2 linked regions of the Homo sapiens genome follow. The protein of the gene in region 1 interacts with the protein of each later gene in a pairwise test. Each region holds a gene or a part of one and is shown on either strand. Other genes may lie near its edges.

Evidence for each region. Proteins that work in one complex are often made in the same cells at the same time.
Region 2: the proteins of ABHD5 (region 1) and PLIN2 interact in binary tests that used the Homo sapiens proteins (3 or more experiments, as listed by UniProt).

What each region holds. Positions count from the first base shown.
Region 1 is NC_000003.12:43,693,934-43,700,953, reverse strand, and holds part of ABHD5 (1-acylglycerol-3-phosphate O-acyltransferase ABHD5), read right to left. Parts: intron 1,679-7,020; coding exon 1,593-1,678; intron 1-1,592. UniProt on the Homo sapiens protein: Coenzyme A-dependent lysophosphatidic acid acyltransferase that catalyzes the transfer of an acyl group on a lysophosphatidic acid.
Region 2 is NC_000009.12:19,124,474-19,132,154, reverse strand, and holds the start of PLIN2 (perilipin-2), read left to right. Parts: upstream 1-4,662; 5' UTR 4,663-4,736; intron 4,737-5,706; 5' UTR 5,707-5,728; coding exon 5,729-5,758; exon of another isoform or gene 5,759-5,845; coding exon 5,846-6,041; intron 6,042-7,681. UniProt on the Homo sapiens protein: Structural component of lipid droplets, which is required for the formation and maintenance of lipid storage droplets.

The sequences.
Region 1 (7,020 bases):
TCTTTCTTAGTTTTGTAGAGAGCAAGTTTACCCAAGTATATGGAATAGAAGTTCATTATCATGTTAAAAATCCATGTAATAACTGGGCGTGGTAGCTCATGCCTGTAATCCCAGCACTTTGGGAGGCCGAGGCAGGTGGATCACCTGAGGTCAGGAGTTCAAGACTAGCCTGGTCAACATGGCGAAACCCCATCTCTACTAAAAATACAAAAATTAGCTGGGTATGGTGGCAGGTGCCTGTAATCCCAGCTACTTGGGAGGCTGAGGCAGGAGAATTGCTTGAACCCAGGAGGCAGAGGTTGCAGTGAGCTGAGATTGTGCCACTGCACTCCAGCTTGGGTAACAGAGCAAGGCTCCATCTCAAAAAAAAAAAAAAATTCATGAAAGATGGCTAATTATCCCTTCCTAAGGATATATCCAGTTATGGTCACTTACTCCTGAATCATTCAAATGCACAAACAAATTCATTAGTGGTAAAGAGAATGAAAAACAGGCATGTACAAACATCTGCACCTACATACAAAAATAACACATGAATATGAATGGTACTACCTAATCCACTCCTTTAAGTAGAATCAGCAGAACAAAATTGCACAATAAGTACCACTACTTAGAACTACACCCACAGATACCTTGGAATGCCCTGATGGTACAAGTTTGGGTAAATTTTAGTGCTCATAAGAAGGAAAAAAAAGGGGCTTCCACACCACTATAAATATAGAATCCTAGAATGCTAGAACTAGAAGGAATTCTATGGACCCATTCATTTTATAAGAATCCTACCCCTTCATTTTATAAGAAATGAGAAGCTGAGCAAAGTGACTTGTCCAAGATCTTGTAACCACCTAGTGGCAGATCTGGGCCTAGACCAAGTTACCTGGGTCCAGTCTAGTACTTCCACTATACAAGGCTGCTTGCTCTGAAACACCTAGAATCTGTTCTCAAAGCATAGTCTCAAGCAGAGTCAGGGGGGGTGTCCCTGAGACTCTTCGAGGAGATCCAGGAAGTCAAAACTATTTTCATCATAATACTAAGACTTTCTATTTTTCACTCTCATTCTCTAATAGGTATAAAGTAGTCTTCCAGAAGTCACATATGTGATTACCCATCAGACTGAAAGCAGAAGCAGCAACCTTATGTCAAGCTAGACATTAAAGACATTTGTAAACATGTAAACAATGTTTGGAAAGTATTTTTTTTCTTTTTTTGGTACAAATTTTATTTATTTTAATCTGTAATGGGTTTACTATTATTTTTAAAGAAATTAATAAATTAACATTTTTGATTATTCAATTTTAATTTCTAATTGTATTAGAAATGATAAATATTGATAATAAGCCCATAAACAAATCTCCTTGGGGTCCTTACTAATTTAAGAGTATAACAGGGGCCCAAGACCAAAAAGTTTTAGAACTCCTACCTGCCAGCCCCCGACATTCATTTCTGTACTTTCTAATGACAAGGAAAAGGAAAAAAGTTATTTTGCCAACAATGAACACACCACAGAATCTTACCTCCAGTTTCAGGGCAATGAGATATATTGGACCTATCTTAGTACACAGCTCATTTAACTTACAAGAAGAAAGCCTTACATTTTAACATCTTCTCTTCAGCTTCTTTAAGGTGTGATATAGACGTAGGGCACCATGTGGGGAGCCAACCAGTTAGCCATCCTGACCTAGAGCACCAAAAACAAAATAACAAATAGGTGAGTTCATGCTCTTCTCAACTACCAATTGTCACATGCACAGAAGAAAGGCAGCACAGGAAATTTACTACCTGTGTGATGGTAAAGCTATGTGTGACAAAAGTGACCTAACATGCACAAAGCATGGTGGTAAGTACTGGGATACAGATATTCAACTTCAGCCTGTGTACTTACAAGTAGATCTCAAAGTCCATCTTATTCATGGATAGTCAGATTCCAAATAAGCAAAAAGAGGATAAAATGGGAAGAACAAGAAAACACAAAAAATGCATTCCTCCCCACTGCAAGACAGCCTCTTATTGGGGTAGAAGTGCAAAAAAAGTTAAAGACCAGGAGTAGATTCATTTGAATGACAGTTTCACAGTGAATATAAAAGGTACCTCTATGGGGGTTGAGAAAAGGGGCACCTTATTAAAATCTGAGATCGACCATTTTTTGGGGAAAAAGAAGGCTTCAAATCTCATATGAGTAGTAACATACCCCTAACACAAATGTGGGAGGCTGGTCTGCGTACAATCTCCTTAGGGTGAACTGGTTAACTGTTAATAGAAGTACAAAAAAGCTTTGGGTTTCAGCAAACAGTAGATGAACAGAACGACCAAAGCATCCATCAGAAGACAGCACAACAAAGAACAAGGAAGCAGATCTGAGGCAGCTAGTGAGGAAAGGCATGGGGAGGCTGCAGTTGACATACTTTGCTTGTAGCCAACAAAAGAGAGGGTAAGCCTCAACTCCTGGCCTGGCAGTCACAAACCAAAAGCTTACTGTAATAACCTGACATAATGCAGAGCTTCAGTAGTCATTTGACAGTTAGCAAGGGCTCGGTGCATGGCTGGTATTATTTAAAATGAGAACTTTCTGATGAAAAAGAAATGAATTAGAAGAGGAAAAGTGAACTACTGCAGAGTCCAGATGAGAGGTAAGGGCCCAATCCAAGGCTTTGGCAACAGGGATAGAGACAAGAAGATGTAGTCAAAGAATATTTAAAAGGAAAACAGGTTGGATTTGATAACTGGTTGGAGATAAAGAAGTTATAATAAGGATTCCCAGGCGTCTCTCTTAGGTTACCACTATAATGACAGACAACACAAGAGTAAGAATAGGTGTGAGAGGAAAATGTGCTAAGTTTTGGAAGGGTTGTGTACCAACATCTAGCTTTTCTTACCTTTGTAGGTTCATCCTACTATATTTCCCTTCCCTGTAGAATTTATCTGGATATTACGTATAACAGGTACTCAATCAATAATGTTTGCTGAGTGATTAAGTCACTCACAATCCAGGGGATTCTCAGTCCAAATTATCCCCATTTCATAGATGTAAAAACTGAAGTTCAGAAATGTTAAGCACCAAGTCCAAGGGTATACAGCTAGTAAGTAAGTAAGTTTGATTCTGAGCCACTCCAAAGTGCTTTTTTCTCAAATGACTACCTTCCTTAAAATGTCTGAAGGGTTGCCCATTACCTACAGGATAAGTCTATATTTTCCTGGACCTGCACAGAAGGTACTTTGCAATCCATCCACAGCCTACCTCCATCCCATCTTTTCTTTTCATATATTGTACTTTTTCCAGTACTTCATATCTCTCAAAATTTCATATGATTACATGTCTCTATGGCTTTGCACAGCTCTTATAAATTACCCAGTCTCAGGTAGTTCTTTATAGCAGCATGAGAATGGACTAATACACAGGCCATTAAAATAAAAGAACTCATGATTTTTAGAGGTTAAAGGTGAAGCTCTTTTGTCCTTGACCAGCCATTAGGTCTATATTTAACCATAAAAATATGAACTAGTACCAACAAGAAATTACTTACAACTCAATCTCATCCATTGTCTTAAACAAACATCCCTCGAACCATATCACAATTATTTGCCAGAGAGAATCAGAGGTCAATTAAAAAAAATTACAGTGAAATGAAGTATAAGCTACTATTGCTCCAGTTGATATCACAGACAAACTGGGGCAAAGAAAACACAAATGCATTCTTTGCATTAAAAAAGGATACTTTTTTAAAAAACGACACTCAAAAAATAATTCAGACACTGAATACCTACTATGTACAAAGCACCAGTGTTTAAAAAGTTACATACCAGCCTGTAATGGAAGAATCATGCCTACCTCCACCAACTTACCACTTACCACAAAACCAGCTTTCAAACAATGGGACTGTCTGTCCATGGATTTGCCTTCTAGTGACCAGCTCAACTCAGAGAAGGGGCAAAACATGTTTTCATGTTTGTAAGCTTACATTAAAAAGTAGGGATCTTCAACCATAAGAAGAGGCACCAACTCTCTTCAGGTTTTCACAGAAGCATTTTCATCAAAACAGGTGATTTTTTAAAGTGGGTTTTTTTCTAACAGAAAAATATATATTTAACAAAACATAGCAAGATATTTTTACTCTTAATGGAATTGTAAAGATAGCACTCTTCCCCTAAGCCCTGATAATGCTTCTGTCCAGTTTCACTTTAACCAGATGATTAAATGTTTTACAGAAACTATCCTCTGCTTCTTTGAGACACTCTACAGGATTAAGTGTTATATACATAATAGGCTTCAAGGAACATTTCCAATGAGTAAAAAGCAAGGGCCTTATCTTTTCCACCCTTTAGTTGATTCCTGTTTGTTCAAAGGTCTCATACCTTACCTTGCAACCTCTATTGCTTCAACCCTTTAAAACTTACCCATCCAACTCTACCTCCTGTCTTCGGGATAAATTAATCTCACCTTCAAAGAGACCCTTTGCCCCCTCCCCAGTGGTATCCTATGCCATTCAGTGTTGCTCAGCATTCCTAGGTTTAGTATATAGAAGACTGGAACTAAGGACACAGGACTGAAGCTTGTCAGATATTCTGCCATTCTTCTGAGGTCACAAAATTCAAGGCAAAAATTAAATTCACACAGCCCACCTATAAAACAGTAAACTAGATTCAATGCCTCTTCCTCATAGCTTTGGAAAATAAATAGAAAAGCAAAACCTAACTTCTCTATTTTATTTAAGGAGACAAGCAATAAACACTATCATCCATCACTGAGGCCTAAATTCAACAGTGACCAAAGTGTCAACTGTAATACAAAGAGAAGTCATTCACCACAGGAACTATAGCTTTCTAATAGTAAGCATCTATGACATGGGGAAAGCTTACCAATGCAAGCCAAAAAGTTTTCTACACAGCCCCATCAGTTGGGCACTTACCTTATTAGCAAGGCAAAGGATATAAGCCCTAAAGCATCTAATCACAGAAACAAAAACAAAAAAAGAAAGGATTCTTGTTTTACAACCATTGTAGTGCAAACTAAGAATCTTTTTAGTGAGCAGACTTTTGAGTAAGAAAAGTTATAAAAGATCACATCAGAGGTGACAATTCTAAGGAAAGCCAAGTAAGATGTGCTTAACATATTAATAGAGTATATTTTACCTAAGAATCTGACTTTAAGTATCCTGAGTGAGAGATAGACACCACTTTTTCCATTAACTTTTTACGTAATCCTTCTAAAAAAATATTATGTCATACTTATACTCCATACTATCAACACTTAAGTTTCCTGGTAATCTCTGTTTTGTTCTTTAACACATCTGTCTATCTACAGTATTACTAAACCTGAATTGCACAATCTATAAACATTATGAAACAGTGAAAGAGGTTTCGAAGTATTCTGAAGAAAATATGCAGAAATCTGGCCAGTTTCCATACACTCTTGGCCACTTAATATTTCTAATTAGGTTATAAGTAAAGAGGATTTCATTATATTAAAATTTTGTTTAAAATGGCCTCCATTCCTATTCTAGTAGTTGAGAGAGAAAAATCACATAAACTTATTGCTCTTGATAAACCTAAGCACAGCTCTCTATCTCATTTAAAGAAACCATGAGGCTTTGATTTTTATTATAAATATCCAAATGAATTACAGGTATGAATATATACATTTATTTATATTTACATTTATATTTATCTGAGATACTTCCTCAACCAATGACTAAAAACATCCAAATTGGAAATTATAACACTTGGGTAAATAAAGACCTTTCTTGGGAATTGACTTTTTAAATCCTATTCTTGGGAAAGAGAAAAAGAAAAGAAAAAAGCGTACTTTGGGAGGCTGAGGTGGGAGGATTGCTTGAGCTCAGTCAGGAGGTCAAGACCAGCTGCCTGGCACATGCCTGTAGTCCCAGCCGCCTGGCACATGCCTATAGTCCCAGCAACCTTGGGGGGGTGGAATACAGGGGCTGGGGGGCAAGTTGCTGAGGTGGCAGGATTGCTTGAGCCCAGGAGGTTGAGGCTGCAGTGAGCCATGATTGTGCCACTGCACTCCAGCCTGGGTGACAGAGCAAGAACCTGTCTCTGGAAAACAAACAAAAAAAAAAGAATATGGTCTCATACAGCTACAATTTAAGTGACTAACATGCCATTTTATTTTGGATAAATGATACTTAAGTGATTCAAATTATCACTATTAGATCAATGACAATCCAGGCCCTCTAATATATGTTAACACATTAATTAATACTGTTTTAACTGCCCCTCCCCCCCCAACCTGTAACTTTTAAAGACTCAGATTGGTAGTATAAGTGTTTTAGACAAGCCATGTGCTGGTAACACGTATCTCCCCATTGTTTCCTACCTTCCTTCACACAGTAAACAAACCATTTTAGAGTCACTTATATGACCTCATTATCAAACACACTTGAAGAAGCCACAGGTGTACTCTACTTAACAAGTCAGTGACATTTCTTTGCATCAGTTCTAAAATAAGTTCATTCACTAGATAATAAAGAGAATAAAACTAAAAATCCTAGGTCTCAACTGAATAATCAGTTTTAATAAAATCACCTCTCCATATGATTTTTTTTAGTAACTCACAATCAGGAGTGGGAATTACAGAACCATGAGATTAAACTAATAATCTAACAATTAGTCAAGGCAATGATTAAGCCAATATAATGTTTCAAGAGGAAGAACTGAGCTTTTTTTTTTTTTTTTTTTTTGAGACGGAGTCTTGCTCTGTCGCCCAGGCTGGAGTGCAGTGGCACGATCTCGGCTCACTGCAAGCTCCGCCTCCTGGGTTCACGCCATTCTCCTGCCTCAGCCTCCCGAGTAGCTGGGACTACAGGCGCCGCCACCTTGCCCGGCTAATTTTTTTGTATTTTTAATACAGACGGGGTTTCACGGTGTTACCCCAAAGTGCTAGGATTACAGGCGTGAACCACGGCGCCCGGCCAGAACTAAGCTTTTTATATCGTTTAGTTTAGGAGCAGGAAGGTAAAAATAAGATCATGGTCTGGACATGTTAAATTTGAGGAATCAGGCACA
Region 2 (7,681 bases), on another chromosome or scaffold:
ATTTTGCCAAGGGTAAGGACACACACATGGGAGACAGGTCTGTGCCTTTCTCCAAAGATGATTTTGAGGGTTTCAATATCTAAAGGGGAAAGGAGTGGATACTGGGGAGAGGAGAAATTGTTAAGGGGTGTGGGCCAGTAAGAGGCAAATGGTTGCATTCCTTTGAGTCTTTGATTAGCCATTGACATGTGAGATGGGGGGGTAGAGGAATAGTCACGCATTCATCTAGCTCAGTGAATCTGCATTTTTAAATAAGATAAAATAAACATAGGCCAGAGGGAGCAATCAAATATTAATTTGTCTCAGGTGAGCAGAGGGATGCTATTGTGTTCTGTCCTATGTCCCACATCTGTGAATATAAGCTATCAATTTACATTGTGAGGATGAAATTCAACAGAACTTTTTAGGGTAAAGATCTTGGGGCCCACAAGGAATTTCCTAGTGGGCAAATTATGAGGGAGGTATGTAGCTTTTTTGTTTTGTTTTCTTTTGAGACAGAGTCTCACTCTGTTATCCAGGCTGGAGTGCAGTGTCTCCATTATAGCGGTCCCCAACTGCAGCCTTGACCACCCAGGCTCAAATGATCCTTCCACCTCAGCCCAGCAAGTAGGACTACAGGCGCATGCCACCACACCCGGCTAACTTTTGTATTTTCTGTAGAGACGGGATTTCACCATGTTGCCCAGGCTGGTCTCAAACTCCTGGGTTCAAGTGATCGCCTGCCTCAGCCTCCCAAAGGGCTGAGATTACAGGCATGAACCACTGCGCCTGGCTTATGTAGCTTATCTTTGAATAGGAGGTTTGTGTGACACAGTCCCCAGCTTGACTTTTCCCTTTGGTTCAGTGATTTTGGGGTCCCAAGATTTATTTTCCTTTCACACAGGTAAAGTCCGGAGAAGAAGCTGGTGAGAAAGAGACAGGAGCCAGATGCTGAATGACGGTAAATCGAATCCTGGAGGGAACCAAACAAAACCCTGAAAACCTCCAGGAATCTCAGGTTGGCCAAATCCTTGGTAATGTCCTGCCACTCCCCAGGACTGCCACACTGTACACACCCTATCTAATGGCAACCTACTGCAGGGGCCAAGGAAAAACGTCTCCTTTGTCCTCTGGAGGTTCACTGAAAAATCAACTGGCGGAAAGCAAATTAACAGGTCAAAAGATATACATGTATTATTATAAAAAGACGTAAATGTATTATTGGGCATGTGGGGGAACCACAGAGTAATTACTCCACCTCTCAGTGGGCTCAGAAGCTTATATACCCCTCCTGAGGTTACAGAAAGTTTGGGGGCTCAGAGAATGGTGGTAAATCAGGATTTAGTGGCAAGACAGAAATGGAAACTTGGCTAGCAAAAGTCATTTCATTATGTAGATTGGGGTCCCCAAACTTTGGGCCATTTACACTGTGGCCATTTACATTCCTGTTAGGAATAGGGCCGCACAGCAAGAGGTGAGTGGCGGGTGAGTGAGCAATACCGCCTGAGCTCTGCCTCTTGTCAGGTCAGCAGCTGGTATTAGGTTCTCTTAGGAGCAAGAACGCCGCTGTGAACTGCACATGCAAGGGATCTAGGTTGCGGCTCCTTATGAGAATCTAATGCCGATGATTTAAGGTGGAACAGTTTCATCCTGAAAACCATCCCCCTGCCCTGGTCCATGGAAAAATTGTCTTCCATGAAACCTATCCCTGGTGCCAAAAAGGTTGGGGACCGCTCATGTAGATGAAACCTCACAGGTAGTAGCCATTGGAAAGAATAGATGGTTGATGTTTCTTTCAGACCTTTAAAGGTGTCAGACTGTCCATTAACCTTTCCTATATCTGGACGAGGGAAAACCTCAGAGAGCACCTGGCTGCATCAATGCAGATTTTCTCTGTATATTGCAAGCCTCTCTCACACACACACACACACACACACACACACACACACACACACACACACACACCAAACAGCTTCGTAGGACTACTTCCGCCTGCAGGTCCTCTGAACAGCCATATCTCAAAATATGTGAAAGAAGTATATTTTGGGGTAAAATTTTTTGGTTTCCTTCACTACACATCTCACCTTGGGTGTTATTCTTGCCACTGGTTTCATGTTCTCAGACTCACGAAGCTGAAAAACAGTTGGGGATGCAGAATTTGATGTGCTTCATCCTTTGTGGGCTTGAAGAGTCTCTTGTTCCCAAAATTATTCCCTGGGGCCCTCTGCTTCACAGGCAAATAAAAGCAAAAAGAAGCTTGCTCAGCCTTAAGTGAGGAAATGACTCACAGGTTTAAAACAAAAAAGGAAAAGATGGAGGCATTTTGTAGGTGAAAGGGCGAGAGTCTTCTGATGCAAAGTAAGAGGTCATTAGAGCAGGGATGGATTATCAATAAGCAGAGCAAACATTTGCTTAGGGAACAAACAGCGCCGGAACACGAAAAAGAAAAGAAAAACATAATAATTTAATTACTTAAAACACTGAAGATGGCAACATAGGAAAAAACCCAAACCAGAACATTTTTGGACTTCATAACATTTTATGGTTCAGTATTTATGGCTTAGTATTTTATTTTGAATTACATGTGGGGAGGAGGGGTAAAAATACTTTAATTTTTCTTGCTAAGTAAGTACTATTATATATTCAGGTATAATGGGATAAGGGATACCATTTTAATGGGTCCGTTTGGAGCTTTAAATATGATCAACAGTATCTGTGTGCATGCAAGATTGGTTAAGAAACTGGGTTAGACCGAGTGCGGTGGCTCACGCCTGTAATCCCAGCACTTTGGGAGGCCAAGGCGGGCGGATCACGAGGTCAAGCGATCGAGACCATCCTGGCCAACATGGTGAAACCCCGTCTCTACTAAAAATACAAAAATTAGCTGGGCGTGGTGGCCCGCGCTTGTAGTCCCAGCTACTCGGGAGGCTGAGGCAAGAGAATCACTTGAACCCGGGAGGCTGGGGTTGCAGTGAGCCAAGATCGCGCCACTGCACTCCAGCCTGGCGACAGAGCGAGACTCCGTCTCAAAAAACAACAACAACAACAACAACAACAGAAAATGAAAACAAATTGGGGTAAAAGTCTCTGAGAGCTTCCTACAGTTACAACTCCAAAGCTTCACAAAGCCAGTCCCTCCTGGCTGGAGCCAGGGACTCCAACGCTGTGGGCCTCTCAGGGGGCGGACCCGCGGCGCCAGCGCCTGCTCCCTTCCCACCTCCCAACCCTCCTCTCTGCTGTATCCTCCCTGCGAGCTGTGTCGGGGGCCGGGGGGGGGGAGTGGGGGCCGAGGCCGGACAGCTTCATCTGGAAATCCCCCGCCACTCACGGGGGAAGAAGTCCCACGAGCCCTATCTGGCCTCGGGCGCTGGCGCAACTTGTCTGCTCAAATAATCTCGTTCCAAATCTGTGCGTTTTACACAAGAAACAAACAAACAAAACAACAACAACAAAAAAACACAACTGGGACTCAGATGACGTTTTAAGTTGTCTTTGAAAAACAATGCATAACCCTGCACGTATAAAGTTGCCTATGTCACATAACCCTAGGCAGCTGTCATTCTGGAGTGATCTGGAGTTAAGTTTTTTGTTTTCTTTTTCTTTTTTCTTTTCTTTTTTTTTTTTTAGACAGGGTCTCAGTCACTCAGGCTGGGGTGCAGTGGTACAGTGGCGCGATCTCGACTCATTGCAGCCTCGACCACCTGGGCTCAAAAGATTCTTTCACCTCAGCCACCCACCCGCCTGCCCCCAACCCCGCTAAACAGCCGGGACTAGCTGGGACTACAGGCGCGCGCCACCACGCTGGGCTGCTTTCTTTGTATTTTGAGAGAGACGGGGTTTCGCCATGTTGGCCAGGCTGGTGATTCGCTCGCCTCGGCCTCCCAAAGTGCTAGGATTACAGGCGTGAGCCACCGCGCCCAGCCGCCACAAAACTTTTAAAAGTTATTACTTCGCTAAAAATAACAGCGTAGAAGCCATTGTGCAGCGCCACGCGATCTCGGCTCACTGCAGCCTCGACCTCCCAGGCTCAAGCGATCCTCCCATCTTAGCCTCGCAGGTAGCTGGGGCCACAGGCGCACGACACCACGCTGGGCTATTTTTTAAAATAAAATAAAAATCTTCGCCAGGCTGGTCTCGAACTCCTAGGCTCGACAGATCCTCTCGCCTCAGCATCCCAAAGTGTTGTGATTACAGGCGTGAGCCACCGCTTCCATTTTTAGAGTTCTATTCTGAGGACTAACGCCGTTCAACAAGTTGGTGTGAATTTGTTTGCATTTTTCAAAACCCCAAAGCCGGCCTGGGCGCCATCCCCATTTGCCCCGGGCCTCTCAGGACCCCGACCACAGGCAGGACCCCGACCACAGGCAGCGCCCCGACTCCAGGCAGCGCCCCGACTCCAGGCAGGGCTACCTCCAACTCCCAGCCTCCCCAGGCCGGGCCCCCGCCCGGCTCCCGACAGGCTCCTCTCCCCGTGGCGGGGCCCCTCGCCCAGGCAGCACACCCTCTCAACCCGACCGGGCCCCCACCACTCTAGGAGGGCCGGCGTTGGGGGAGGGCGCCGGGACGTGCCCGAGGGTGACACTCGGGCTTGGGACAGGGCGTGCTGCCGCGGGTCACGTGCTGCGGAGGCTTGGGGAGGGGCGGCGAGGCGGGGTTTATAGCCCGGGCGCCCGCGGGCCCCACGCTTTGACCGGGTCGTGGCAGCCGGAGTCGTCTTCGGGACGCGCCTGCTCTTCGCCTTTCGCTGCAGTCCGTCGGTGAGTGCGCGCCCAGTGGGTGCCCCAGCGAACCGGTCCCGGGCCCCCAGCGGCGCCCAGTTGGGGTGGGGGGCTCCCCGGGGCCTTGGGACCGCTGCTCTGCTCCCCGCGGGGCTCAAAGGTGGACGGGACGCGGGGGTGATGGTCCGAGACCCCCCGCTCGCCTCGCGGCTTCCAGGTCCTGGCTGGGTAGGGGCGGTCTGCTGAACCCGCGCTTTCGACCCTTGCCTTTGTGCGTTGAGGCTTCTTTCCTGCCAACAGATTTAGGGCGATTGCTATCGAATGTCCCTTGGCCTGCTTGGGTGGTTGTGGGAAAACAATATTTGTCGAAGGGACATTATCGAAAGGGAAACGCGTTAGAAAACCGCATTTTTTTTTTGACGGAGTCTCGCTCTGTCGCCCAGGCTGGAGTGCAGTGACGCCATCTAGGCTCACTGCAACCTCCGCCTCCCGGGTTCAAGCGATTCTCCTGCCTCAGCCTCCAGAGCAGCTGGGATAACAGGCGCCCGCCACCACGCCCGGCTAATTTTTGTATTTTTAGAAGAGACGGGGTTTCACCACGTTGGTCAGGCTGGTCTTGAACTCCTGACATCAAGCAGTCCACCCCCCTCGGCCTCCCAAAGTGCTGGGATTACAGGCGTGAGCCACCGCGTCCGGCTTGGCTAGCATTTTTGTTAACAGATACTCGGAGAAACAAGAGAAGTATGTCAACAACTTTACTTCTCCCTCCTGAGTATTGCAAGTTTACACATAAGCTCTGAAACTTTGCCTCAAAAGAGGGAGTGGGGTTGTGTGGGTGTGGGTCTTTCAGGAGGGGGACCTGGAGAGCTGGAGAGAGGAAAGAAGTGCAGAAGACTACAGGGAGCTCACCCTGCATTTTTCTCTACTTGTAATCAGCATTTGCTTGGGTTGGGGAATGAATTTGGGAGAGTCTTATCCCGGTGTTCTGAAATAAGTCTCTTTTCTGCAGATTTCTTTCTCCAGGAAGAAAAATGGCATCCGTTGCAGTTGATCCACAACCGGTATGAATTTTGAGTAGCCTTTGTCTACTTTCTCTCCTTTTGTGTTTTGAGAGATTAATAAGCATACCCTCCCTACTTTGATTGCAGAGTGTGGTGACTCGGGTGGTCAACCTGCCCTTGGTGAGCTCCACGTATGACCTCATGTCCTCAGCCTATCTCAGTACAAAGGACCAGTATCCCTACCTGAAGTCTGTGTGTGAGATGGCAGAGAACGGTGTGAAGACCATCACCTCCGTGGCCATGACCAGTGCTCTGCCCATCATCCAGAAGCTAGAGCCGCAAAGTGAGTTCTGATTTTTCAAGATGCAAGTCAAGGGACTGGTCAGTGGCGAGCCCCTGAGCTCACAGCAGTAACATCTGGAACTCCTCAGCCCTTCCTGGGGCATACACTGCCTTTACCTAGAAACTTTCAGGTGACCCTCATTACCGTAAGAGGACTGTTTCTTTTCTTTTCTTTCCTTTTTTTTTTTTTTTGAGATGGAGTCTCACTCTATCACTCAGGCTGGAGTTCAGTGGCGCAGTCTTGGCTCACTGCAACCTCTGCCTGCTGGGTTCAAGTGATTCTCCTGCCTCAGCCTCCCGAGTAGCTGGGACTACAGGCTCCCACCACCATGCCCAGCTAATTTTTGTATTTTTAGTAGAGACGCGGTTTCACAATATTGGCCAGGCTTAACTCCTGACTTTGTGATCCACCCACCTCTGCCTCCCAAAGTGCTGGGATTACAGGCGTGAGCCACCGCGCCTGTCCACAGAAGGCCTGTTTCATAGCTTTGGCAGATGTTTATGATCCTTTAATTAAAAATCCCCCAGAGGATGGGCACGGTGGCCTGCACCTGTAATCCTAGCACTTTGGGAGGTCTAGATGGGAGGATCGCTTGAGGCCTGGAATTTGAGACTGCTCACTGCAGTCTCTGCCTCTCGGGCTCAGGTGATTGTCCTGCCTCAGCTCCCTGAGTAGTTGGGATTACAGGCATACACCACCATGCCCAGCTAATTTTGTATTTTTAGTAGAGACAGGGTTTTGCCATGTTGGCCAGGCTGGTCAGGAACTCCTGACCCCAGGTGATCCGCCCGCCTCGGCCTCCCAAAGTGCTAGGACTACAGGTGTGAGCCACCATGCCTGGCCATGAATGAGTTTTAGAAATGGATAGTGGTGATGGTTGTATAATGTTGTAAATGGACTTAATGCCACTGAATTGCACAGTTAAAAATGGTTGAAATGGTGAAATTTGTTATGTATATTTTACCGAAATAAAGAATAGAAATGTCATACTCCATGAGAAATCTCATACTCTCATACTTAGTAGTCACTCCCCATTTCCTAACAACCACCCTGAGGCAGCTACTCATCTACTTTGTCTTTATAGATTTGCCTATGCTGGATATTTCTTATAAATGAAATCATAAAATGTGTGGGTTTTTTTGTGATTGGCTTCTTTCGTTAAGCATAATGTTTTCAAAGTTAATCTGTCTTGTCACATCATATCAGTACTTCATCTCTTTTTATTGTTGAATAGTAATTTACTGTCTAGACAGACAATATTTATTCATTCTTCAACTGATGGATGTTTGGGTTCGTTCTACTTTTGGAGATTATGTATAATGCTTCTGTGAACATTTGTATACAAGTTTTTGTGTGGACATGTTTTCAGGTTTTTTTGGTATATACCCAGGAGTGGAATTGCTGGGTTATATAATAACTGTTTAAGCTTTTGAGGAGCTGCCAGACTGTTTTCCAAATCAGCTGTACCATTTTACATTCCCACCAACACTGTATGGAGGCTCCAATTTCTCCACAACATGAACTGCTTTTGAATAAAGATTTAAATCATTCTTTCAAATGGTTAAGCCAGGGACTTTTAGGATTATAAGGAGCCTTTAGAGACCAGCCATTCCAACTCTGCTACTTCCTAAATGAATTTG